Linked DNA regions of Homo sapiens. The gene in region 1 interacts genetically with each later gene. Each region holds a gene or a part of one and is shown in the gene's direction. Other genes may lie near its edges. The genes, in order: ATR, TERT, SEPTIN9 and PARP2.

The links.
Region 2: of ATR (region 1) and TERT, extra expression of one rescues a mutant of the other (dosage rescue), as found in Homo sapiens cells (one study listed by BioGRID).
Region 3: changes in ATR (region 1) and SEPTIN9 are lethal when combined (synthetic lethality), as found in Homo sapiens cells (one study listed by BioGRID).
Region 4: changes in ATR (region 1) and PARP2 are lethal when combined (synthetic lethality), as found in Homo sapiens cells (one study listed by BioGRID).

The regions. Positions count from the first base shown.
Region 1 is NC_000003.12:142,554,706-142,561,733, reverse strand, and holds part of ATR (serine/threonine-protein kinase ATR), read left to right. Parts: intron 1-312; coding exon 313-491; intron 492-1,279; coding exon 1,280-1,471; intron 1,472-2,292; coding exon 2,293-2,483; intron 2,484-2,957; coding exon 2,958-3,110; intron 3,111-5,158; coding exon 5,159-5,351; intron 5,352-5,594; coding exon 5,595-5,857; intron 5,858-7,028. UniProt on the Homo sapiens protein: Serine/threonine protein kinase which activates checkpoint signaling upon genotoxic stresses such as ionizing radiation (IR), ultraviolet light (UV), or DNA replication stalling, thereby acting as a DNA damage sensor.
Region 2 is NC_000005.10:1,292,060-1,300,050, reverse strand, and holds the start of TERT (telomerase reverse transcriptase), read left to right. Parts: upstream 1-4,982; 5' UTR 4,983-5,061; coding exon 5,062-5,280; intron 5,281-5,384; coding exon 5,385-6,738; intron 6,739-7,991. UniProt on the Homo sapiens protein: Telomerase is a ribonucleoprotein enzyme essential for the replication of chromosome termini in most eukaryotes. Active in progenitor and cancer cells. Inactive, or very low activity, in normal somatic cells.
Region 3 is NC_000017.11:77,277,195-77,284,511, forward strand, and holds the start of SEPTIN9 (septin-9), read left to right. Parts: upstream 1-4,304; 5' UTR 4,305-4,341; coding exon 4,342-4,360; intron 4,361-4,417; exon of another isoform or gene 4,418-4,703; intron 4,704-7,317.
Region 4 is NC_000014.9:20,353,634-20,358,431, forward strand, and holds the end of PARP2 (poly [ADP-ribose] polymerase 2), read left to right. Parts: intron 1-451; coding exon 452-614; intron 615-1,175; coding exon 1,176-1,314; intron 1,315-2,118; coding exon 2,119-2,182; intron 2,183-2,263; coding exon 2,264-2,398; intron 2,399-2,673; coding exon 2,674-2,801; intron 2,802-2,956; coding exon 2,957-3,056; intron 3,057-3,417; coding exon 3,418-3,516; intron 3,517-3,762; coding exon 3,763-3,887; intron 3,888-4,004; coding exon 4,005-4,164; 3' UTR 4,165-4,271; downstream 4,272-4,798. UniProt on the Homo sapiens protein: Poly-ADP-ribosyltransferase that mediates poly-ADP-ribosylation of proteins and plays a key role in DNA repair.

The DNA.
Region 1 (7,028 bases):
AAGTTACATGAAGAAAGTTGGTAATTCCCTTACAGAATTTTTTATAAGGGAATTAAAATTTATAGCATTTTGGTAAGAGGAAAAACAGGATGTAGAGAGAAGGATTTGTTTAAACCTTCTAAGACTATAGAACCATAGTCTATATATAGACTTAAATAATATAGATCAATTTAGATGTTTATTTTGCTTTATGAGACTCTAAAAGTAGTTTCACTAGAAAACACCTAACATCTAATACATTCTTGCTGCCTATGAATAATATAAATATATTTTCTAAGGAATATTTCTGGAAATTATTTTTTATTTTCTCAGTACTTGTTGGGCCCACTTTATGCAGCTTTGAAAATGGAAAGTATGGAAATCATTGAGGAGATTCAATGCCAAACTCAACAGGAAAACCTCAGCAGTAATAGTGATGGAATATCACCCAAAAGGCGTCGTCTCAGCTCGTCTCTAAACCCTTCTAAAAGAGCACCAAAACAGACTGAGGAGTATGATGACCTTCATTCAGTTTGTATTTAGCCATTAAATAAAACTTTGTTCACTTTTAAAAATCAGCTTTAGTTAAGTGCTTTGATTTAAATACACAAAGAACATCTTTCTAAATGTAGCCAAGGGAGTGCTTAAAATATTTTTATAATTATTGTAGACGGTTAGTAGTATAAAACATTTCATGGTTAAATATAGTTACTTTGCATGTTTTTATATGCTTATCTAATTTAACTTTTTAATATGTGAAAAATCTTTGAGACTGTGCATCTATTAGCAATTTTTAAAACATTAACCAACTATTTTTTATAAAGTGGCTAAGTTGCCATATTTCAGTTACTTCTGAACATTGTTTTAATTGTTTTAAATCTTAGTATAAATTTCAGGCTGGGCGCGGTGGCTCACGCCTGTAATCCCAGCACTTTGGGAGGCCGAGGCGGGCAGATCACGAGGTCAGAAGATCGAGATCATCCTGGCTAACACGGTGAAACCCTGTCTCTACTAAAAATACAAAAAATTAGCCAAGCGTGGTGGTTGGCGCCTGTAGTCCCAGCTACTCGGGAGGCTGAGGCAGGAGAATGGCGTGAACCCGGGAGGCGGAGCTTGCAGTGAGCCGAGATGGCGCCACTGCACTCCAGCCTGGGAGACAGAGTGAGACTCTGTCTCACAAAAAAAAAAAATTTTTTTGAATAGTTGATATTACATAGTATGTTTTATTCTAAATATGTTTCATGTTTTAACCAAATTTATATTGCATATGAATATCTCTCTACTATATTCATAATTATAGAATTAAACATGTGGACATGAACCAAAAGAGCATATTATGGAGTGCACTGAAACAGAAAGCTGAATCCCTTCAGATTTCCCTTGAATACAGTGGCCTAAAGAATCCTGTTATTGAGATGTTAGAAGGAATTGCTGTTGTCTTACAACTGACTGCTCTGTGTACTGTTCATTGTTCTCATCAAAACATGAACTGGTAAAACAAACTTCTTGTTTCTTGGGGTTGGGTTTCCTGTAATGAACTTGGATTTACTGTTTACTCATTATTCACTTGACTCATGTAACCTTAGAACACAAACTTTTCACTGAAGTAGTTAATAAATTTATTTTCTATTGAGTCAAATGCTAGGTACGGTGCTAAGCACTGTATATATCTTAGTTAATATTTACAATAGTCCTGTAAGGTAAAGGCTATTATGCCTATTTTAAAAATTAGAAACTGACACTCAGAGAAACTGAGGCTCTTTTTTGTCTGAAGCCAAAACTGACTTTCCTGGGGACACATGATTAGAAAGTACCAGAACACATTTGTGTACAACTCAAAACCCAGTGTTTGGCTGTTGAAGACAGGGTCTCGCTTTGTCTCCCAGGCTGGTGCACAGTGGCATGATCATGGCTCACTACAGCCTTGATCTCTATCCGGGGCTCAAGTGAGCCTCCCATGTAGCTGGAACTATAGGCATGTGCCGCCACACCCTAATTTAGAAAAAATTTTTTTTGTAGAGATGGGTTTCCCTATATTGGCCCGGCTGGTCTCAAACTCCTGGGCTCAAGTGATCCTCCCACCTCAGGCTCCCAAAGTCATTTGGTTCCCAAATCCTAAGGGTGATTTAAGCTGACATAAATAGATTCAACTTAAAATAGTAATAACATATTACTTGATTTGCATGTTTACTTTAAATTGTTATAGATAAATTTCGTACTCACAATTTCTTTTGGCTTTACTACAATTTTATGTTTGACTATAACAAAATTCATCTTAATTCCAATGTTTTTAACAAAATGTACTTACTGCAGCCGTACTTTCAAGGACTGTCAACATAAATCCAAGAAGAAACCTTCTGTAGTGATAACTTGGATGTCATTGGATTTTTACACAAAAGTGCTTAAGAGCTGTAGAAGTTTGTTAGAATCTGTTCAGAAACTGGACCTGGAGGCAACCATTGATAAGGTGGTGAAAATTTATGATGCTTTGATTTATATGCAAGGTGAGTACAAATTAGCAACAGATCAGAATAACCTTTAAAGATAATCAGTATAGAAATATGCTTTCTTTTTTGCCTGAAGCCTAAGTGCGTGTTTGGAATACTCAGAAGTTTTTTCCTGATTTCAGTTCTATTAAATTTGTCAATAATAGAAGTTCTGAGTTGCCAATTTATGTGCATAATATTTTGATTCTTTAGTCAATAGAAATTATTTATAACTTCAAAGTTTTTTAATTTGGGAGTTTGAGGAATGCCGTGATTCTTCTTTAAAACAGGCATAGATAACATGTTTTTATAAAGTCACATTTAATTTCTTTGGGTTCACAGACCTCAGACCATCGTTTATAGATCTCTGTGTTAAGAATTTCTGCTTATCCAATGATCATTATGATAGTATTTCAAATGTCTTTATTTTTATTTAAAAGAGATATGATTAAGGAAAAGTTATAATTAATGACTTATTTTGTGCTTCTGTAGTAAACAGTTCATTTGAAGATCATATCCTGGAAGATTTATGTGGTATGCTCTCACTTCCATGGATTTATTCCCATTCTGATGATGGCTGTTTAAAGTTGACCACATTTGCCGCTAATCTTCTAACATTAAGCTGTAGGATTTCAGATAGCTATTGTAAGTGCTCACAAGAATGTGTGTGTGGTTTGTTTTATTTATCTATCTATCTATCTATCTATCTATTTATTTATTTATTTATTTATTTATTTATTTATTTTTGAGACGGAGTCTTACTCTGTCGCCCATGCTGGAGTGCAGTGGCGCAATCTCGGCTTGCTGCAACCTCCGTCTTCAGGTTCAAGCAATTTTCCTGCCTCAGCCTCCTGAGTAGCTAGGATTACAGGTGCGCACCACCATACCCAGCTAATTCTTATATTTTTAGTAGAGGCGGGGTTTCACCATGTTAGCCAGGCTGGTCTCGAACTCCTGACCTCAAGTGATCCACCTGCCCCAGCCTTCTAAAGTGCTAGGATTACAGGCGTGAGCCACCATGCCTGGCCTTGTGTGGTTTGTTTTAACTCATCTCTATATAGGACTTCTAAGACTTATTTATATTTTTTTCAATAATTAAAAGAGCAGGTACATTTTTAATAGTTCAGAAGGGGGTTAGATACATAAAAAGTAACACATAAAAGCCTGCCCCACATATCCCATTTCCTTTCTTTTTGTAAAACATTTGCAATGTGTCCTTACATATCATTATCTTCATTTAATAAAATTAGGAAGTATTTGAGAAATATTTTAAAAAGAAGAACAATATACCAAAAATTCTTATACCAACTTCTCAGTTTAAGAAATAGAAACATTAGGCCAGGCACGGTGGCTCACGCCTGTAATCCCAGCACTTTGGGAGGCCAAGGCATGCGGATCTCTTGAGGTCAGGAGCTTGAGACCAGCCTGGCCAACATGGCAAAACCTCATCTCTTCTAAAAATACAAAAATTAGCCAGGCATGGTGGCTCACGCCTGTAGTCCCAGCTACTAGGGAGGCTGAGATACAAGAATCTCTTGAACCCAGGAGGCAGAGGTTTCAGTGAGCCAAGATTGCACCCCTGCACTCCAGCCTGGGCTATTAGAGATATGATGGAAGCCTTTGTCCCTCTATGATTTCATTCCCCTCATTTTTTTCCCCAGAGATTACTACTGTTCTGAATTTGGTGTTGATTGTTCTGTTGAATGTTCTATTACTTTTACTATATATGTATTTATTTATAAATAATATAAGAAATTGTTTTGCTTCTTACAGCTTACATTTTGTTGATCAACACTATCTTTATGAGACTTATCCATGGTGATATGGGTAACTCTAGTTTTTATTTAAACTTCCAAATAGTAGCCAAATTTGGATGGACACTATCAGACCTCCTATTGGTGGACAATCAAGTTGTTTCCAACTTTTCACAATTACAAGCAACATTTAAATGAATATTTTTATAAATGATTCTTTAGTCATTCTAAGTCCTTGCTGTTTGAAAAGTATGCTCCACAGACCAGTAGCATCGCCACCATTTAGGGACTTGTTAGAAATGGAGCGTCTTTGATTCTGCTGAAAGAGCACATTAAAAAAAAAGAGAGAGAAAGAAAGAAATGGGGAATCTTATGCTCCACCCAGACCTACTGATCAGAATCTGCATTTTAACAAGATAGGTGATTCATATCCATATTAAAGTTTGAGAAGCATTATTTTAACGTTTTTACCTACCTAGGAGTAGTATTGTTGGGTTATAGAGTTTGCACATCTTCACCTCTATTCTGCTGTATTGTTCTCCAAAGATACACCAGTTTACACTCCTGTTAGCAGAGTATGAGTTCCACATCCTCACTGACACTTAGCTGACTTTAAAATTTTTGCTATCTAGAAAATAAAAAATGTCATGGAGTTAAGTATCTTAAATTTTTTCTTTTTCCTATCTGGTAGGTATGATTTTCAATTTGCATTTCCTTGATTATTTAGTAAGGTTGTGTATAGACCTTTTTCAGTGCACTTGCTTTATTTTCTGAAAAGGAGCTTTTAATTAAATTAGGTATTAAATGTATTTTAAGTGTTACTTGACTTTTATTTATATATATGTATACACAAATGTTACTTTACTTATATATATGTATATGTGTATACATAAAATTAACATTAGTAGAAATCTTGTTTAATAGACTTAATTTTTTCAGCACCACAGGCACAATCACGATGTGTGTTTCTTCTGACTCTGTTTCCAAGAAGAATATTCCTTGAGTGGAGAACAGCAGTTTACAACTGGGCCCTGCAGAGCTCCCATGAAGTAATCCGGGCTAGTTGTGTTAGTGGATTTTTTATCTTATTGCAGCAGCAGAATTCTTGTAACAGAGTTCCCAAGATTCTTATGTATGTACTAAGATTTTAATTTGAATATATCACTCTATTGGAAAGATCATAATTGTCTGGCTATGTATGCAGGGTTGTGTTTATTGTTGAATATGTAAAGCAAATGTTGCTTTTAGTTTTAGAATTTAACATTTTTTCCTTCTAGGCTTTGTTTTACCAGTACTTTTGTCCCAAATTAAGCAAGACTATTTAGACCACAAAATTAGGCAAGAAAGTTTAGTACTTTTTCTTTTTTTTCCCCAGAGATAAAGTCAAAGATGATTCTGACATTGTCAAGAAAGAATTTGCTTCTATACTTGGTCAACTTGTCTGTACTCTTCACGGCATGTTTTATCTGACAAGTTCTTTAACAGAACCTTTCTCTGAACACGGACATGTGGACCTCTTCTGTAGGAACTTGAAAGCCACTTCTCAACATGAATGTTCATCTTCTCAACTAAAAGCTTCTGTCTGCAAGCCATTCCTTTTCCTACTGAAAAAAAAAATACCTAGTCCAGTAAAACTTGGTGAGTGATTATGACTTATTTAATACTTTAAAACCTATTTAAGCTCTGCTTTTCAAATCAGTAAAAGAATTAGACTGAAGCCTTGAAAAATTACAGGAAGTTACATGCTTTATAGATTCAGTGCTCAGTATTGATTAGTTATAAATGGGATAACTGGTATTAGATCGCATCACAAAACTGGTAGGAGAGGTGATTTTGGGATTTTTCGAATACTCTTGTGATTTGACAGCCTAAATGGGGCATACCTGATGGTTGTTTCAATATTGTAAGATTCAATATTAGATTATCTTCTTTAGTGATACCAGAGATCGTCTTAATGTGCCCCCTGTTACAACCTTGGACCTTGAGAACTTCAAATAGTTAAATTACTTTGCCCAACTGAGGACTATAGAGTGTATCTTCTTGGCCACTTTCCAGTGGTAATGGAGTATAAATTTTTATGAAGTATGAGATTTATACAAATACTTAGAAGATCCATTTGTTTAGGTAGTAAGTTGAAACTTGTTCTGAAGTTTCAATAGAAACTTTCTATTGAAAGCAATAGAAAGTACTCCCTAAATCTTGTAATGTAAGGTTAACAATAAAGCTAAGATCCCCTTGAGAAATGTGCTTTTCTTTTTTTCTTTTTTTTTTTTTCCCCGAGACGGAGTTTTGCTCTTGTTGCCCAGGCTGAAGTACAATGGCGCCATCTTGGCTCACTGCAACCTCTGCCTCCTGGGTTCAGACGATTCTCCTGCCCCAGCCTCCGGAGTAGCTGGGATTACAGGCGTGTGCCACCAGGCCTGGCAAATTTTTGCATTTTTAGTAGAGACAGGGTTTCACCATGTTGGTCAGGCTAGTCTCCAACTCCTGACCTCAGGTAATCTACCCACTCTGTCCCCCCAAAGTGCTGGGGTTACAGGCATGAGCCACCATGCCCGGCCTTTCTTCTTTCTTTTTTTTTTTTTAAGAGACAGGGTCTTGCTCTGTCACCCAGGCTAGAGTGCAGTGGCGCAATCATGGCTCACTGCAGTCTGCATCCTTGATCTCCCAGGCTCAAGTGATCCTCCCACCTCAGCCTCTTGAGTAGCTGGAACCATAGTATGTGCCACTACACCCAGCTAATTTTTAAATTTTTTGTAGAGAGGGATCTCACTTTGTTGCCCAGGCTGGTCTTTGAACTCCTAGCTTC
Region 2 (7,991 bases), on another chromosome or scaffold:
TAATGAAGTGGTGTGCAGGAAATGGCCATGTAAATTACACGACTCTGCTGATGGGGACCGTTCCTTCCATCATTATTCATCTTCACCCCCAAGGATTGAATGATTCCAGCAACTTCTTCGGGTGTGACAAGCCATGACAACACTCAGTACAAACACCACTCTTTTACTAGGCCCACAGAGCACGGCCCACACCCCTGATATATTAAGAGTCCAGGAGAGATGAGGCTGCTTTCAGCCACCAGGCTGGGGTGACAACAGCGGCTGAACAGTCTGTTCCTCTAGACTAGTAGACCCTGGCAGGCACTCCCCCAGATTCTAGGGCCTGGTTGCTGCTTCCCGAGGGCGCCATCTGCCCTGGAGACTCAGCCTGGGGTGCCACACTGAGGCCAGCCCTGTCTCCACACCCTCCACCTCCAGGCCTCAGCTTCTCCAGCAGCTTCCTAAACCCTGGGTGGGCCGTGTTCCAGCGCTACTGTCTCACCTGTCCCACTGTGTCTTGTCTCAGCGACGTAGCTCGCACGGTTCCTCCTCACATGGGGTGTCTGTCTCCTTCCCCAACACTCACATGCGTTGAAGGGAGGAGATTCTGCGCCTCCCAGACTGGCTCCTCTGAGCCTGAACCTGGCTCGTGGCCCCCGATGCAGGTTCCTGGCGTCCGGCTGCACGCTGACCTCCATTTCCAGGCGCTCCCCGTCTCCTGTCATCTGCCGGGGCCTGCCGGTGTGTTCTTCTGTTTCTGTGCTCCTTTCCACGTCCAGCTGCGTGTGTCTCTGCCCGCTAGGGTCTGGGGGTTTTTATAGGCATAGGACGGGGGCGTGGTGGGCCAGGGCGCTCTTGGGAAATGCAACATTTGGGTGTGAAAGTAGGAGTGCCTGTCCTCACCTAGGTCCACGGGCACAGGCCTGGGGATGGAGCCCCCGCCAGGGACCCGCCCTTCTCTGCCCAGCACTTTTCTGCCCCCCTCCCTCTGGAACACAGAGTGGCAGTTTCCACAAGCACTAAGCATCCTCTTCCCAAAAGACCCAGCATTGGCACCCCTGGACATTTGCCCCACAGCCCTGGGAATTCACGTGACTACGCACATCATGTACACACTCCCGTCCACGACCGACCCCCGCTGTTTTATTTTAATAGCTACAAAGCAGGGAAATCCCTGCTAAAATGTCCTTTAACAAACTGGTTAAACAAACGGGTCCATCCGCACGGTGGACAGTTCCTCACAGTGAAGAGGAACATGCCGTTTATAAAGCCTGCAGGCATCTCAAGGGAATTACGCTGAGTCAAAACTGCCACCTCCATGGGATACGTACGCAACATGCTCAAAAAGAAAGAATTTCACCCCATGGCAGGGGAGTGGTTAGGGGGGTTAAGGACGGTGGGGGCGGCAGCTGGGGGCTACTGCACGCACCTTTTACTAAAGCCAGTTTCCTGGTTCTGATGGTATTGGCTCAGTTATGGGAGACTAACCATAGGGGAGTGGGGATGGGGGAACCCGGAGGCTGTGCCATCTTTGCCATGCCCGAGTGTCCTGGGCAGGATAATGCTCTAGAGATGCCCACGTCCTGATTCCCCCAAACCTGTGGACAGAACCCGCCCGGCCCCAGGGCCTTTGCAGGTGTGATCTCCGTGAGGACCCTGAGGTCTGGGATCCTTCGGGACTACCTGCAGGCCCGAAAAGTAATCCAGGGGTTCTGGGAAGAGGCGGGCAGGAGGGTCAGAGGGGGGCAGCCTCAGGACGATGGAGGCAGTCAGTCTGAGGCTGAAAAGGGAGGGAGGGCCTCGAGCCCAGGCCTGCAAGCGCCTCCAGAAGCTGGAAAAAGCGGGGAAGGGACCCTCCACGGAGCCTGCAGCAGGAAGGCACGGCTGGCCCTTAGCCCACCAGGGCCCATCGTGGACCTCCGGCCTCCGTGCCATAGGAGGGCACTCGCGCTGCCCTTCTAGCATGAAGTGTGTGGGGATTTGCAGAAGCAACAGGAAACCCATGCACTGTGAATCTAGGATTATTTCAAAACAAAGGTTTACAGAAACATCCAAGGACAGGGCTGAAGTGCCTCCGGGCAAGGGCAGGGCAGGCACGAGTGATTTTATTTAGCTATTTTATTTTATTTACTTACTTTCTGAGACAGAGTTATGCTCTTGTTGCCCAGGCTGGAGTGCAGCGGCATGATCTTGGCTCACTGCAACCTCCGTCTCCTGGGTTCAAGCAATTCTCGTGCCTCAGCCTCCCAAGTAGCTGGGATTTCAGGCATGCACCACCACACCCGGCTAATTTTGTATTTTTAGTAGAGATGGGCTTTCACCATGTTGGTCAGGCTGATCTCAAAATCCTGACCTCAGGTGATCCGCCCACCTCAGCCTCCCAAAGTGCTGGGATTACAGGCATGAGCCACTGCACCTGGCCTATTTAACCATTTTAAAACTTCCCTGGGCTCAAGTCACACCCACTGGTAAGGAGTTCATGGAGTTCAATTTCCCCTTTACTCAGGAGTTACCCTCCTTTGATATTTTCTGTAATTCTTCGTAGACTGGGGATACACCGTCTCTTGACATATTCACAGTTTCTGTGACCACCTGTTATCCCATGGGACCCACTGCAGGGGCAGCTGGGAGGCTGCAGGCTTCAGGTCCCAGTGGGGTTGCCATCTGCCAGTAGAAACCTGATGTAGAATCAGGGCGCGAGTGTGGACACTGTCCTGAATCTCAATGTCTCAGTGTGTGCTGAAACATGTAGAAATTAAAGTCCATCCCTCCTACTCTACTGGGATTGAGCCCCTTCCCTATCCCCCCCCAGGGGCAGAGGAGTTCCTCTCACTCCTGTGGAGGAAGGAATGATACTTTGTTATTTTTCACTGCTGGTACTGAATCCACTGTTTCATTTGTTGGTTTGTTTGTTTTGTTTTGAGAGGCAGTTTCACTCTTGTTGCTCAGGCTGGAGGGAGTGCAATGGCGCGATCTTGGCTTACTGCAGCCTCTGCCTCCCAGGTTCAAGTGATTCTCCTGCTTCCGCCTCCCATTTGGCTGGGATTACAGGCACCCGCCACCATGCCCAGCTAATTTTTTGTATTTTTAGTAGAGACGGGGGTGGGGGTGGGGTTCACCATGTTGGCCAGGCTGGTCTCGAACTTCTGACCTCAGATGATCCACCTGCCTCTGCCTCCTAAAGTGCTGGGATTACAGGTGTGAGCCACCATGCCCAGCTCAGAATTTACTCTGTTTAGAAACATCTGGGTCTGAGGTAGGAAGCTCACCCCACTCAAGTGTTGTGGTGTTTTAAGCCAATGATAGAATTTTTTTATTGTTGTTAGAACACTCTTGATGTTTTACACTGTGATGACTAAGACATCATCAGCTTTTCAAAGACACACTAACTGCACCCATAATACTGGGGTGTCTTCTGGGTATCAGCGATCTTCATTGAATGCCGGGAGGCGTTTCCTCGCCATGCACATGGTGTTAATTACTCCAGCATAATCTTCTGCTTCCATTTCTTCTCTTCCCTCTTTTAAAATTGTGTTTTCTATGTTGGCTTCTCTGCAGAGAACCAGTGTAAGCTACAACTTAACTTTTGTTGGAACAAATTTTCCAAACCGCCCCTTTGCCCTAGTGGCAGAGACAATTCACAAACACAGCCCTTTAAAAAGGCTTAGGGATCACTAAGGGGATTTCTAGAAGAGCGACCTGTAATCCTAAGTATTTACAAGACGAGGCTAACCTCCAGCGAGCGTGACAGCCCAGGGAGGGTGCGAGGCCTGTTCAAATGCTAGCTCCATAAATAAAGCAATTTCCTCCGGCAGTTTCTGAAAGTAGGAAAGGTTACATTTAAGGTTGCGTTTGTTAGCATTTCAGTGTTTGCCGACCTCAGCTACAGCATCCCTGCAAGGCCTCGGGAGACCCAGAAGTTTCTCGCCCCTTAGATCCAAACTTGAGCAACCCGGAGTCTGGATTCCTGGGAAGTCCTCAGCTGTCCTGCGGTTGTGCCGGGGCCCCAGGTCTGGAGGGGACCAGTGGCCGTGTGGCTTCTACTGCTGGGCTGGAAGTCGGGCCTCCTAGCTCTGCAGTCCGAGGCTTGGAGCCAGGTGCCTGGACCCCGAGGTTGCCCTCCACCCTGTGCGGGCGGGATGTGACCAGATGTTGGCCTCATCTGCCAGACAGAGTGCCGGGGCCCAGGGTCAAGGCCGTTGTGGCTGGTGTGAGGCGCCCGGTGCGCGGCCAGCAGGAGCGCCTGGCTCCATTTCCCACCCTTTCTCGACGGGACCGCCCCGGTGGGTGATTAACAGATTTGGGGTGGTTTGCTCATGGTGGGGACCCCTCGCCGCCTGAGAACCTGCAAAGAGAAATGACGGGCCTGTGTCAAGGAGCCCAAGTCGCGGGGAAGTGTTGCAGGGAGGCACTCCGGGAGGTCCCGCGTGCCCGTCCAGGGAGCAATGCGTCCTCGGGTTCGTCCCCAGCCGCGTCTACGCGCCTCCGTCCTCCCCTTCACGTCCGGCATTCGTGGTGCCCGGAGCCCGACGCCCCGCGTCCGGACCTGGAGGCAGCCCTGGGTCTCCGGATCAGGCCAGCGGCCAAAGGGTCGCCGCACGCACCTGTTCCCAGGGCCTCCACATCATGGCCCCTCCCTCGGGTTACCCCACAGCCTAGGCCGATTCGACCTCTCTCCGCTGGGGCCCTCGCTGGCGTCCCTGCACCCTGGGAGCGCGAGCGGCGCGCGGGCGGGGAAGCGCGGCCCAGACCCCCGGGTCCGCCCGGAGCAGCTGCGCTGTCGGGGCCAGGCCGGGCTCCCAGTGGATTCGCGGGCACAGACGCCCAGGACCGCGCTTCCCACGTGGCGGAGGGACTGGGGACCCGGGCACCCGTCCTGCCCCTTCACCTTCCAGCTCCGCCTCCTCCGCGCGGACCCCGCCCCGTCCCGACCCCTCCCGGGTCCCCGGCCCAGCCCCCTCCGGGCCCTCCCAGCCCCTCCCCTTCCTTTCCGCGGCCCCGCCCTCTCCTCGCGGCGCGAGTTTCAGGCAGCGCTGCGTCCTGCTGCGCACGTGGGAAGCCCTGGCCCCGGCCACCCCCGCGATGCCGCGCGCTCCCCGCTGCCGAGCCGTGCGCTCCCTGCTGCGCAGCCACTACCGCGAGGTGCTGCCGCTGGCCACGTTCGTGCGGCGCCTGGGGCCCCAGGGCTGGCGGCTGGTGCAGCGCGGGGACCCGGCGGCTTTCCGCGCGCTGGTGGCCCAGTGCCTGGTGTGCGTGCCCTGGGACGCACGGCCGCCCCCCGCCGCCCCCTCCTTCCGCCAGGTGGGCCTCCCCGGGGTCGGCGTCCGGCTGGGGTTGAGGGCGGCCGGGGGGAACCAGCGACATGCGGAGAGCAGCGCAGGCGACTCAGGGCGCTTCCCCCGCAGGTGTCCTGCCTGAAGGAGCTGGTGGCCCGAGTGCTGCAGAGGCTGTGCGAGCGCGGCGCGAAGAACGTGCTGGCCTTCGGCTTCGCGCTGCTGGACGGGGCCCGCGGGGGCCCCCCCGAGGCCTTCACCACCAGCGTGCGCAGCTACCTGCCCAACACGGTGACCGACGCACTGCGGGGGAGCGGGGCGTGGGGGCTGCTGCTGCGCCGCGTGGGCGACGACGTGCTGGTTCACCTGCTGGCACGCTGCGCGCTCTTTGTGCTGGTGGCTCCCAGCTGCGCCTACCAGGTGTGCGGGCCGCCGCTGTACCAGCTCGGCGCTGCCACTCAGGCCCGGCCCCCGCCACACGCTAGTGGACCCCGAAGGCGTCTGGGATGCGAACGGGCCTGGAACCATAGCGTCAGGGAGGCCGGGGTCCCCCTGGGCCTGCCAGCCCCGGGTGCGAGGAGGCGCGGGGGCAGTGCCAGCCGAAGTCTGCCGTTGCCCAAGAGGCCCAGGCGTGGCGCTGCCCCTGAGCCGGAGCGGACGCCCGTTGGGCAGGGGTCCTGGGCCCACCCGGGCAGGACGCGTGGACCGAGTGACCGTGGTTTCTGTGTGGTGTCACCTGCCAGACCCGCCGAAGAAGCCACCTCTTTGGAGGGTGCGCTCTCTGGCACGCGCCACTCCCACCCATCCGTGGGCCGCCAGCACCACGCGGGCCCCCCATCCACATCGCGGCCACCACGTCCCTGGGACACGCCTTGTCCCCCGGTGTACGCCGAGACCAAGCACTTCCTCTACTCCTCAGGCGACAAGGAGCAGCTGCGGCCCTCCTTCCTACTCAGCTCTCTGAGGCCCAGCCTGACTGGCGCTCGGAGGCTCGTGGAGACCATCTTTCTGGGTTCCAGGCCCTGGATGCCAGGGACTCCCCGCAGGTTGCCCCGCCTGCCCCAGCGCTACTGGCAAATGCGGCCCCTGTTTCTGGAGCTGCTTGGGAACCACGCGCAGTGCCCCTACGGGGTGCTCCTCAAGACGCACTGCCCGCTGCGAGCTGCGGTCACCCCAGCAGCCGGTGTCTGTGCCCGGGAGAAGCCCCAGGGCTCTGTGGCGGCCCCCGAGGAGGAGGACACAGACCCCCGTCGCCTGGTGCAGCTGCTCCGCCAGCACAGCAGCCCCTGGCAGGTGTACGGCTTCGTGCGGGCCTGCCTGCGCCGGCTGGTGCCCCCAGGCCTCTGGGGCTCCAGGCACAACGAACGCCGCTTCCTCAGGAACACCAAGAAGTTCATCTCCCTGGGGAAGCATGCCAAGCTCTCGCTGCAGGAGCTGACGTGGAAGATGAGCGTGCGGGACTGCGCTTGGCTGCGCAGGAGCCCAGGTGAGGAGGTGGTGGCCGTCGAGGGCCCAGGCCCCAGAGCTGAATGCAGTAGGGGCTCAGAAAAGGGGGCAGGCAGAGCCCTGGTCCTCCTGTCTCCATCGTCACGTGGGCACACGTGGCTTTTCGCTCAGGACGTCGAGTGGACACGGTGATCTCTGCCTCTGCTCTCCCTCCTGTCCAGTTTGCATAAACTTACGAGGTTCACCTTCACGTTTTGATGGACACGCGGTTTCCAGGCGCCGAGGCCAGAGCAGTGAACAGAGGAGGCTGGGCGCGGCAGTGGAGCCGGGTTGCCGGCAATGGGGAGAAGTGTCTGGAAGCACAGACGCTCTGGCGAGGGTGCCTGCAGGTTACCTATAATCCTCTTCGCAATTTCAAGGGTGGGAATGAGAGGTGGGGACGAGAACCCCCTCTTCCTGGGGGTGGGAGGTAAGGGTTTTGCAGGTGCACGTGGTCAGCCAATATGCAGGTTTGTGTTTAAGATTTAATTGTGTGTTGACGGCCAGGTGCGGTGGCTCACGCCGGTAATCCCAGCACTTTGGGAAGCTGAGGCAGGTGGATCACCTGAGGTCAGGAGTTTGAGACCAGCCTGACCAACATGGTGAAACCCTATCTGTACTAAAAATACAAAAATTAGCTGGGCATGGTGGTGTGTGCCTGTAATCCCAGCTACTTGGGAGGCTGAGGCAGGAGAATCACTTGAACCCAGGAGGCGGAGGCTGCAGTGAGCTGAGATTGTGCCATTGTACTCCAGCCTGGGCGACAAGAGTGAAACTCTGTCTTTAAAAAAAAAAAGTGTTCGTTGATTGTGCCAGGACAGGGTAGAGGGAGGGAGATAAGACTGTTCTCCAGCACAGATCCTGGTCCCATCTTTAGGTATGAAGAGGGCCACATGGGAGCAGAGGACAGCAGATGGCTCCACCTGCTGAGGAAGGGACAGTGTTTGTGGGTGTTCAGGGGATGGTGCTGCTGGGCCCTGCCGTGTCCCCACCCTGTTTTTCTGGATTTGATGTTGAGGAACCTCCGCTCCAGCCCCCTTTTGGCTCCCAGTGCTCCCAGGCCCTACCGTGGCAGCTAGAAGAAGTCCCGATTTCACCCCCTCCCCACAAACTCCCAAGACATGTAAGACTTCCGGCCATGCAGACAAGGAGGGTGACCTTCTTGGGGCTCTTTTTTTTCTTTTTTTCTTTTTATGGTGGCAAAAGTCATATAACATGAGATTGGCACTCCTAACACCGTTTTCTGTGTACAGT
Region 3 (7,317 bases), on another chromosome or scaffold:
GACTGGTCTTAAACTCCTGACCTCAGGTGATCCACCTGCCTTGGCCACCCAAAGTGCTGGGATTACAGGCCTGAGCCACTGCACCCGGCCTCTTTCTTTTTTCTTTTCTTTTTTTTTTTTTTTTTTAAAAGATGTGATCGTCGGGCATGGTGGCTCACGTCTGTAATCCCAGCACTCTGGGAGTCCGAGGCGGGTGGATCATGAGGTCAGGTGATCGAGACCATCCTGGCTAACACGGTGAAACCCCGTCTCTACTAAAAAAAAAAAAAAAAAAATGAGCCGGGCGTGGTGGCGGGCGCCTGTAGTCCCAGCTACTCGGGAGGCTGAGGCAGGAGAATGGCGTGAACCCGGGAGGCGGAGCTTGCAGTGAGCCGAGATCGCGCCACTGCACTCCAGCCTGGGCGACTGAGCAAGACTTCGTCTCAAAAAAAAAAAAAAAAAAAAAAAAAAAAGATGTGATCTCACTATGTTGCCCAGGGTGATCTTGACCTACTGGGCTCAAGTGATCCTCCTGCCTCAACTTCCCGAGTAGCAGGGTCATGCACTTTTGGGCCAGGATCATCTCTTAACCTTCCTGCAAGCCCTTGCCAACTTCCTCCAGGCTTCTGCCCACTGCCTGCGCCTAAAGCCAATGCCATGTGTTTCATATTTTAGTGACCAGAGCACAGTGAGGCACGTCAGACCCATTAGCTTTCTAATCACCACACCAGCTGTGTGAGTTGGGGGTTGGGTACTGCCCTCCCCTTTCATAGGAGTGGGCACTGAGAATTGGGGAAATTACACAACTGGTCATAAGCACTCAATTAGGAGGAGGAGGAGGAGGAGGAACAGAGTGTTTGAAAGACAATTTTTAAAAATTGGATAGCACAGTAGCCTGGGGACATTTGCGAAGGAGTAAGATGGCGGCGTGTGCGTTGATAACCGTTCAAGGTGCCATCGTGACGGTCCTGAGCCAGGAGGGAAAGAGTCATATGTTTGCTATGCTCTTCTCACCAAGGCAGGGGATTGTGTCATATGTTTTAGAGAGTTGTCTGTGAAAAACAATTAAAACTTGATGCTTAGGCCGGGTGTGGTGGCTCATGCCTGTAATCCCAGCACTTTGGGAGGCCAAGGCAGGCAGATCACTTGAGGTCAGGAGTTGGAGACCAGCCTGGCTAACGTGGTGAAACCCCATCTCTACTAAAAATACAAAAATTAATCGGGCCTGGTGGCAGCAGGCACCTGTAATCCCAGCTACTTGGGAGGCTGAGGCAGGAGAATCGCTTGAATGTGGGAGGCAGAGGTTGCAGTGAGCCAAGATCATGCCATTAAACTCCAACCTGGGTGACAAGAGCAAAACTCCATCTCAAAAAATAAAAATTAAATTAAAAAAATAAAAAAAAAATAGGCCAGGCGCAGTGGCTCACACCTGTAATCCCAGCACTTTGGGAGGCCTAGGCAGGTGGATCACCTTGAGGTCAGGAGTTGGAGACCAGGCTGGCCAACATGGCAAAACCCCGTCTCTACTAAAAATACAAAAATTAGCCGGTTGTGGTGGCGTGTGCCTGTAATCCCAGCTACTTGGGAGGCTGAGGCAAGAGAATTGCTTGAATCCGGGAGGTGGACGTTGTAGTGAGCTGAGATCATGCCACTGCACTCTAGCCTGGGTGACAGAGGGAGACTCTGTCTCATAAATAAATAAATAAACCAGGTGCGGTGGCTCACACCTGTAATCCCAGCACTTTGGGAGGCTGAGGCGGGGGGATCACCTCAGGTTAGGAGTTTGAGACCAGCCTGGCCAACATGGTGAAACCCTGTCTCTACTAAAAAAGAAAAAAATTACAAAAAAAAAAAAATTAGCCAGGTGTGGCGGGCACCTGTAATCTCAGCTACTCAAGAGGCTGAGGCTGGAGAATCACTTGAACCTGGGAGGCAGAGGTTGCAGTGAGCTGAGATCGCACCATTGCACTCCAGCCTCGGCGACGAGGGCAAAACTCCCTCTCAAAAAATAAAAAATAAAAATAAATAAATAAAAACAAAATTTGAGGCTTAAACAATTAAGCTTCGTGCATCTCTTTAATTTTTCTTTTTTTTTTTTAACTCTAATTTCATGACAGATTAAGCTTCATGCATCTCAAAAATGTGTAGAACCCTCATTCCCAGCCTTCCCTCCCTCTCTCTTGTCCTTCTTTCTGATTTCTTGGAATCGGAAGGAAAATTCGGATATCCAGGAACCATCACACAGGAGGCACCCATGTGATGTGTCCAACATCACTCCACGCAGGTGTCCTTGGGTCCTGGGTGCCCAGGTTCCTGTGAATTGTGACCCCAGGCAGAAGCGTGAGCATCCGCAGAGGAACCCACCTACCCAAAGCCAGGGAACAGCCAGGGCTGGCATCCTCAGGGTGACTGTGCTCCAGGGCACCTCTGACTTGTGCTGAGTAAAATGGACAAAGCCAGCAATGCACCCATAACCCAGATTCTTGAGACACCGCTGGACTTTGGGAATCCCAGGCATTAGGCTCGTGGCAGTGTCATCATGGCTAGGCTGGGGGCAGTGTCATCATGGTGCTTGCTGGCCAAGTCAGGACACGGCCTAAGCCGGAATCTGCTGGTGCTGGTACAAGCGGTGAGTGGGCGTGTGGGTGGGGGTTGCGGTTAGGGTGTGGACATCCCAGAATCCAGGACGCTGTTCACAATTCGTCCATACTCCCTGCTCCCCTCCCTTACAGCACTTCCCTCCCGAGGCCTCCTGAGCCTCTAACCCCCAGATAAGGAAAGGGGTGGACTCAGTTGAAGTCCAGTGTCCACTCCGGTCCAATCAGCTCTACCTGGGGTGAGGGGAAACTCCTCTGGCTGGGCTGCTCCCTCTGCAGGGCTGTGGCTGGACAGATTACTCAAGAAAGGAAGCAGGTGGGCCGGAACGAACCCACGGTGCCACATAGGCCTCCGTTCTCATGCATATAAGTTTCCCACACTCAGGCAGGAAATGAAAATGCTTCTTGGACCCCCAAGGAGAGTAAAGGAGAGGGGAAGAGGAGGAGGATTTTTCGGGGCTGTTAGTGACACTTTCAGCCTCCTGTGCATTTTTGGGAGGGCTGCAGGAGAAGGCAATGCTGCGCCCCTACCCAGAACTAGCGAGCGCTTCCCAACTGGCCTCCCGCCTTCCTCTCGTCCTCTACGGCCTCCATTGGCAGCTGTGCAAGGGCCCGGCCCTGCCTCTGTCTCTCCACACTCGCTGTGATACCTCAGGCCTCCCAGGCTCCGCCACGCCCTTCCCTCTTTCGGGAACAGCTGCCTTCCATCACCTTGGCTGCCTGGCTAATTCCTGCTCATTCCTTAAAACCCTGTTTTGATTTCGCCTCAATAAAACTCTGACACCACCCTCCAGTCATAATTAGTCACTTCTTCCTCTGTACGTTGGAAACACCGCTTTATCGTGGAGACTTTAAGGATATCCAAGTAGAGAGAATTCTTCCGTGCAAGTTTTGCATCCTCTCACCACTGCCTGCGTTACCCGAGTTGTAAAGGGCGGCTCCCTGTGTCTGCCCCGCTGCACCGATACACCGAGCTGCGCACGGTGCCCAGCGCAGGGAGAACAAATGATCATCTGTCCAACGCGCCCATTTACAGGTGAGGAAACTAAGGCTCCAACTCAATCGACGCACTCTGCCCTTTTGATTACCAGAAAAGTAGCAGGACAGGTGTCCTGTCCCGCCCTACCCCGGCCCACTAAGCCGGCACCCCGGCTCCGACCCCCGGCTGTGCCCGGCGCCGCCGCGGTGCCCGGCGCCGCCGCCTCGCCCGGCGGGGCCGCCCGGAGCGCCCGCACCTCCGCCCGCTTCCACCTGGCCGGGCCCGCCCCGCCCGGACTCGGGACTGGGAAGTGCGGCGACTCCCGGAACCAGCCATTGGCGCCAGCGCGGGGAGCTGGGGGTGCAGAGCTGCGGGCGCGGCGGGCCACGCAGGCGGCCCCCACCCCCGGCCTGGCCTGGTCTGGTCTGGTCTGCGCTGCCGCGCGGGGGCGCCCCCTCCCAGGCCCGGCGCCCGCCAGCCCCGCTCCGCCAGGTGCAGCGCAGCGCAGGGGTGGGCGGGGGTGGGGCTCGGCGCGCACGTTCACGGGGCGGGGAGGGGGCGGGTCAGGGGCGGGACCACAGCCGGCTGGGCCGGGGTTCTATGCGCATCTCCGGGGAGGGGCGGGGCGGGGGCGGGGCCGGGGCGGGGCCCGGTCGGTGCACTCCAGACGGCGGGCCGCCCCCTCTTCCCGCCTTCCTACTACCGGCCCAGGATTAGCGCCCTGGGAGCGCGCGCCCCGCTGCCTCGCCGCCACACTTTCCTGGGAGCGGCGGCCACGGAGGCACCATGAAGAAGTCTTACTCAGGTGGGCTTCGCGCCCGGGGTGGGGAGGGGTCGGTGTCCCGGGACCAGCGCTGCTCACCTGAGTGCCTGCGGCCGGGAGTGGCGAGGCGCCCCCGGAGCTGAGCGAGTCCCCGCGGCGGGCACACTGCAGGTCGAGTTCCTCCCAGGACAGGGCCGCTGTCGGGCCGCTTTCGACCTGAGCCGACCGTCCCCTGCGCTGTCTCCAGCCCTTGCTCGAGTGTCGGAGGGGCTGCCCTGGGGGACGCTCCCTCTTCCTCGCCCCTTGCACCCTCGCAGGAATCGCTGACTTTCCAGGTCGGCCGGGTGCTTTGGGTCCCTGTGCGTCTGTGTGGGTGAATGGGGTCGGGGCTAGGTGGAGGGGTGTCCTTGGGTTCAGCCTCTAGGGCTGGTGGTCCAGGCCGCAGCATCCTTTCTTCGGATTCTCTTCGGTTTCTCCTCTACTTAGTGGGGCACGGGACGGCCTCCAGATGGGACCGTCCAGCAGCGCCCAAACTTGGCGACTCGGGTTCACGTTTTGCGCTCAGGACGCCGCCCGCGGCTGACATCCTCACTCCACCCTAGCAGGGCCCGCCTTAAGTAGGCGAAGGGGGCCTGACTTGGGCCTCACCATGAGCCGGTTCAGGAGCTTTCATTTCATAAGAGGCTCCCGCTCTGGCACTCTGAAGTTCCATTTCACAGATGGGCACACCGAGGCCACAAGGGCAGGTTAAGAGAAATCCAGATCTTCATTATTTGTCTTTTCCTTCCTTTTTTTTTTCCTTTGTGGTTTTCTCCAAAGGATCCAGGCAGGCAGGATCCTTTGTCCTCCTCAGTCCTCAAATTATAAATAGCGTCTCCTCTTCTAAATCTAGAAACCGTTTGTTTAATGTCCCTCCTTTAATTCATTCAGATAGAAAGGTACCTGCCAAGGATCCATGAATTAATTTTTATTGATAGGAGAACAGAATCATGGGCCTTAGTTGGAGGTGAAGGAGTCATCGGGGCCATCCCCCTGCCTTTGGGCCATTGTCGGTTTCCTCTGGCTTTCCATATTTAGGAACCAAAATGAGTGATAAAGTACCTTGTCTCAAAGAGGATTACTCAGAACTTCCCCGAAAATACCCTTCTGGGTCAGTAGCTTAGAATTTCAACTTTCACCCGGTTGTTGCGAACAAGATGGCCCTCTACGCACCCGGAGCACAGCTCTGTCAGGAGCGTGGGTGGGTTGGTGTGCTGGTGGGCGGGAGCGGGCTTCCAGGTGGCACATGCTTGGTTTTGGCACCGGGGCTTCCTCCCCAACATGCTCCAAATACTTGAGATTGTTGTGGGGATCGCGCGGTGCATGGCCCTTTCCAGGGGATCTCTAGCCCGCCCAGGGAGGGCCCTTTGCCCTTGGTTTCTTACACTTTACCTCCCACTGGTGGGTCCAGACAGTGGGGGTGACCGGGGTCCTCCCAGGTCGTGGGTCCTGGGTTTTTTCTGCGGAGACCCTCCTGCACAGATGCCGGAAGGGCCCTGAGGCAGGCTTGGAGTCTCTGCACCTGCGGCTTACTGGGAGGTGGGGAGACCATCACTTGTCCTTTTCTCCTCTCCTCCACACACACCTACCCCACCCCTCACTGGGTTTCTTTTTTTTTTTTTTTTTTAAAAAAAAGGACAGAACCTTTTGCAGTAGGTGGAAGTAGAGTTTGTGGAGTGAGCAGGAACCAACTCTTGTACAGCAGCCTCGGTGCCTCCTTGTGTTTACCTAAAGGGGCAGGCCCCTCTGAGGATGGGGGAAGGGAGGGCTCAGACCATTTCTGGTTTGCTCCCTGCTTGGCAGTGGCCCAAGGTGTGCTGGGTCACTGTGTTGCAGTTGTATGGAGTGGGACTGGAGGGGGCTGATGGTGGGGGTGGCCTCTTGCCCTCATTCTGAGTGTCCTGGAGCTGTCTTGGCACCAGCCCTTTTCCGGGTACGGGCACTCGCAGGAGTCAGGCTGACCCCCCAACAAGCCATCGACACCATGAAATTAAGGAAAGCAGCAAAAGATGTTAAAAATCCCCCAAGGCTCTGACAATCCAAGGACAACAGGAAGGTCTTTATTTTTTCATCTAGACTGTGCGGGATTATTGCTTCCAGACCTGTATGTGGGCTTCAGAATAAACGGAATGACCATAATGTTGTTCCCGGTAGACCTGGTTTGAACATTCGTGAGCCTCTGAAAAGGAGAAAGATTTTAGAAGGATGTGTTGGGGCAATCTCAAGTACCGTGGGTCTATAGACAGTCATCGAAGACACTTTATGTGCTGGGCACACATGGCCAAGTCTGAGTGGGTACAGAAATGGTAATGAGATATAGTCCTTGCCTGCAGAGAACTTACATTCTCACCGGGAGTCAGGATGAGGGCGAGACACCAGCTCATTAACACCCTTCCCTCCTGAGCAGTTCAGCCTCCAAATACTACAGGAATGCCCCGGAGGTTTTAGGTGGAGGTGAGATTGAGCTGGGCCTTGAGGAAGGAGAAGTCTTGAGTAGTGGAGAATAAAAAGGGACTTGGCCAGGTGCGCTTGAAGTCCCAGCTACTCAGGAGGCTGAGACACGAGGATCGCTTGAGCCCAGGAGGCTACTCAGGAGGCTGAGACACGAGGATCGCTTGAGCCCAGGAGGCTACTCAGGAGGCTGAGACAGGAGGATCGCTTGAAGCCAGGAGTTCAAGGCTGCAGCCCTGTGACAGCGCCTGGAAATAGACACGGCACTCCAGCCTGGGTGGCGTCATGAGACCCCATCTGTAAGAAGGTCTTTTCCAATGCGGAAGGCAGCAAGGGCCCACACAGGGCAGCTGCAGGATCCAGGGGGACACTGGGGACAGGTTCTCTCTGGCAGCTCCACTGCTGCTCCAGGCTTTCCCGATTGCCTCACCCGGCCTTCCAATGGGGTGGAGGTAGTGGTAGTCTACAGGCAGTGTGGTCCAGTGGTTACACTTGGGGGCTCAGAGCCG
Region 4 (4,798 bases), on another chromosome or scaffold:
ATATACCACCATAAAAAATTTAATTTAGATAAACTGAGGTATACCAGGATGCTGAAACTGTCCGGAAACAGTCACATATCCAAAAAAATGGAGAAGTTTTAGTCTTTTTTAAGATGGGAAGATCTGAGACATAATAGCTGTCTTTACACACTGACGTCATGAGGAAAGCCTTTTTTTTCTAGACTTATTCTGAGTTGTAAAATGTGGGAGGCAGAACTTGGATGGTCAACCCTCTATATCCATGGATTCAATGAACTGAGAATCAAAAATGTTTGAAAAATTGCTTCTGTACTGAACCTGTACAGCCTTTTTTTCCTTGCTTCTCATTATTCCCTAGACAGTGCAATATAAAAACTTTACAAAGCATTTACATTGTATAATATTGGGTGTTATAAGGAATCTAGAGATGATTTCTTAGATTGTCTTGTGTTTTGTTTGTTTTTTGCTATAGGATGAAGAGGAAACAAAGAAAGAGGAATCTCTTAAATCTCCCTTGAAGCCAGAGTCACAGCTAGATCTTCGGGTACAGGAGTTAATAAAGTTGATCTGTAATGTTCAGGCCATGGAAGAAATGATGATGGAAATGAAGTATAATACCAAGAAAGCCCCACTTGGTAGGACTTCACATTTTCTTCTGCATTCTCTCCTTATAATTCCTAGCTCCTTTAATGGATACTTTATTATCATTATGATTTAAAGCTTGCTCATAGTACTGAATGAAGAAAATGGGATTTGGGGTGACAGGTTGTATGGAGGGAAGAGGAACTATTTTGAAAGTTGAGGCTGGGTGTGATGGGTCATGCCTATAATCCCAACACTTTGGGAGGCCAAGGCAGGTGGATTGCTTGAGCCCAGGAGTTTGAAACCAGCCTGGGCAACATGGTGAGACCCCATCTCTACTAAAAATAGAAAAATTAGCCAGGCATGGTGGTGTGTGCCTGTGATCTAGCTACTTGCGAAGCTGAAGTGGGAGGATCACCGGAGCCCAGGAGGTTGAACTGCATTTAGCTGTGTTTGTGCCACGGCACTCAGCCTGGGCAACAGGAGTGAGACCCCATCTTAAAAACAGGAAAAAAAAAAGTTGAAAGATGAAAGTCTTTTTTAGGGAAGGATGTTAAGTACAGTTCACTAGATGGGATCCTAGTTTGGAGTCTGATCTCTGGGTGGGCCTGCAGGGAAGCTGACAGTGGCACAAATCAAGGCAGGTTACCAGTCTCTTAAGAAGATTGAGGATTGTATTCGGGCTGGCCAGCATGGACGAGCTCTCATGGAAGCATGCAATGAATTCTACACCAGGATTCCGCATGACTTTGGGTAAGGCCTGTGCTGTTACTTCACTTTGTTCTTCTACCTATACATATCCCCTGTATCCATCAGCAGCAGCTATAATCTTTTAAATCTTTTATTCCTAAGAAAATGATCGTCTTGAATAGGTACAGAAACAAAATGATATATAGGTAGCCTATTTAATCAGCTTACAAATATGGGATGCAATCTCCCGGCTTGACCACAGCCATATTCTCTGACAAAGTGGAAGTTACCAACCCAAGAGAGAATGGGTCTAGCTATCCAACCACCCAAGTAAAACACCTTCAGGCATATCACCCCCTTTTCCTATTTGAGTAACTAAAACCACACAAACACCATTTCTGTGAACTCAAGTGATATTAGATAGACAAAATAACATTTTACATTTGTTGATTCTGTTTTCTGGTTTACATCCGATTTCTATTTCTTTTATAGCTTTATAGAGCCCCGTGACCTAGAAATAACCCTGAGTGGTCAACAGGTCTACCTGTGCTTCTAGATAGAACTGTATCCAACTGTTCCCTGTTGATATCAATATAACTTATTTTTAAATGATTTTATAAAAAATAATTTTAACTCTAGTCTCAAAAGTCAAAATCCACATAGTTCATCTTATACCGAGTATATATTTAATATTATTTTATATATTTGGAAGTTAAGATCTCTTTACAGATCTCTTTCTCTCTCAAATGGAAAACCTGTTTCTCATACCTGTTTTCTAAAGGACCTATCTGTCATTTTCTATTTTTAGTCATGCGCCTTTTAGCCACATGTCAGAAAGCTCATTATGGGTTATATCTCTGTTCTTAGACTCCGTACTCCTCCACTAATCCGGACACAGAAGGAACTGTCAGAAAAAATACAATTACTAGAGGTGAGATATGTATGATTTGAGAAGTATTATATCCCTTATACCAGTGTCCTCCCACATTGATTCTATATCTCATCTTCTCAGGCTTTGGGAGACATTGAAATTGCTATTAAGCTGGTGAAAACAGAGCTACAAAGCCCAGAACACCCATTGGACCAACACTATAGAAACCTACATTGTGCCTTGCGCCCCCTTGACCATGAAAGTTATGAGTTCAAAGTAAGAAAAATGATCATTTATTTTCATATTCTTGCACCCTTAACCACCTCCCCCATCCCACTGTTCTCTAACTACTTCTTGTCAAGAGCAAATTGTCAATTAGGGCAGACTTTTTATGTACTAGGGATTTGGGAAGGCCAAGCTTTTCCTAGCTGCCTTGTAAGACTGTTTGGGAGCAGAAAGGTCTGCCAAGTTATATCAGAATCCCCAAATTCTTCAGTTCAGCTCAGTCTCTTGTAGAGTCTACATCAGCCTTTTTGTCTTATTTTTCACAGGTGATTTCCCAGTACCTACAATCTACCCATGCTCCCACACACAGCGACTATACCATGACCTTGCTGGATTTGTTTGAAGTGGAGAAGGATGGTGAGAAAGAAGCCTTCAGAGAGGACCTTCATAACAGGTCTGAGTCTAGCTTTGCGTTTGGAAAGACACTCCTTGCCCGAAAGTACAGCTGTAGAACTTATAAGAGGGAGTCAGAGGAAGGTGTTGGCTTTTTTATGCTTATGGCCTATCTGTGCAGAACAACAGAGTACAATAATATTGGCTTTTCCTTAGGATGCTTCTATGGCATGGTTCCAGGATGAGTAACTGGGTGGGAATCTTGAGCCATGGGCTTCGAATTGCCCCACCTGAAGCTCCCATCACAGGTTACATGGTGAGTGAAATTGAACTCTGGGAGGAGCACAGGGGAAAGGGATACAGTAATGTTCTCAGTGCTTTTTTTCCTAGATTAGGATTAGATGGTTCCCCTCCCCAAGAGTTAAGCCAGCTCACTGATAACCTTGTCATCTCTTACTGTGTCCCTCTTTCTTTAAATTCCTAAAGATACCTCACCTTTCCCTCAGAAGGCGGAAATTCACAGGGGCTTCTACCCTCTCTAGAACAGAATTGTGAGGGGAAATGGAGAAGGGTCTATATTGTGTTTAAGGGAATGGAAAAACAGGGTCAGTGGTATGCACCTTCTCTCTAACACAGTGGGTTAGAAGCTGACCTTGGTATTCATGTATATATTTCAGTTTGGGAAAGGAATCTACTTTGCTGACATGTCTTCCAAGAGTGCCAATTACTGCTTTGCCTCTCGCCTAAAGAATACAGGACTGCTGCTCTTATCAGAGGTGAGACAGGAGTATGTCTGTGATCTCTAGTTTATTAATTCCAGTTTTTTTCCGATGAGAAAAGTTTGACCCCAGAACCAAGAGGTTTACCTGGGATAGCTTGAGAGAGGACCAAGTACAATTTCTAGTACATTGGATTCCTCTGCTGGAGTAGGGGAAAAAAGTACTGATGGGATTTTCTGTTTGGCTTTGGAGCCATCTAATTCTTAGTAGGATATGGGAATTCAAAGGTTTTTTGCTTTGCAGGTAGCTCTAGGTCAGTGTAATGAACTACTAGAGGCCAATCCTAAGGCCGAAGGATTGCTTCAAGGTAAACATAGCACCAAGGGGCTGGGCAAGATGGCTCCCAGTTCTGCCCACTTCGTCACCCTGTAAGTACTCAGAACCAGGAGGACTAGAAGACTCCTTTTGGCCAGATAAGACTACGTTCTCTATTGCAGCTTCTGAACCAGAGACTGATGTTGACACACTTTTTTTCCATTTGGCAGGAATGGGAGTACAGTGCCATTAGGACCAGCAAGTGACACAGGAATTCTGAATCCAGATGGTTATACCCTCAACTACAATGAATATATTGTATATAACCCCAACCAGGTCCGTATGCGGTACCTTTTAAAGGTTCAGTTTAATTTCCTTCAGCTGTGGTGAATGTTGATATTAAATAAACCAGAGATCTGATCTTCAAGCAAGAAAATAAGCAGTGTTGTACTTGTGAATTTTGTGATATTTTATGTAATAAAAACTGTACAGGTCTACCACTGGCTTCTTCGGGCTTTATTTCTCCAAGAACATATTTCTTCTGACATTAGTAGATCTCCATTTCCAGGACAGAAATTACTCATTGCTCTGAGGGTTATTCAGTATCCTGTTCTTAGTGGCATCTGTGCATTGAGGGACACTAATGGGGGCGCTAATGCTTTTACCTGTTTAATTCAATTTTTCTGCAAACTGGAATTTGTTGAGTATTATCACAGGAAGGGTAGAGGCAACAAAGGCTAAGTCGTGTTTTTCTTTCCCATGCATATGTATTCACTTGCCTTTTTCAAATTTATCCACTGCAGCCTAGGTCTCCCACTACTCAACATCCTAGGACTCATCACATGTCCAAAAATTTGGGAAGCCCTTGGAGGACTGTCACTAAGCCTGAATACATCTTGAGGAGGAAAGGAAAAAAGTGGAATGAGTTTTTACATAACCTGCTCCAACTAAGAAGTACTAAAGTCCAGGTCAGATCCTGATATGGTTAGGCTTTGTGTCCCCATCCAAATCTCATCTTGAACTG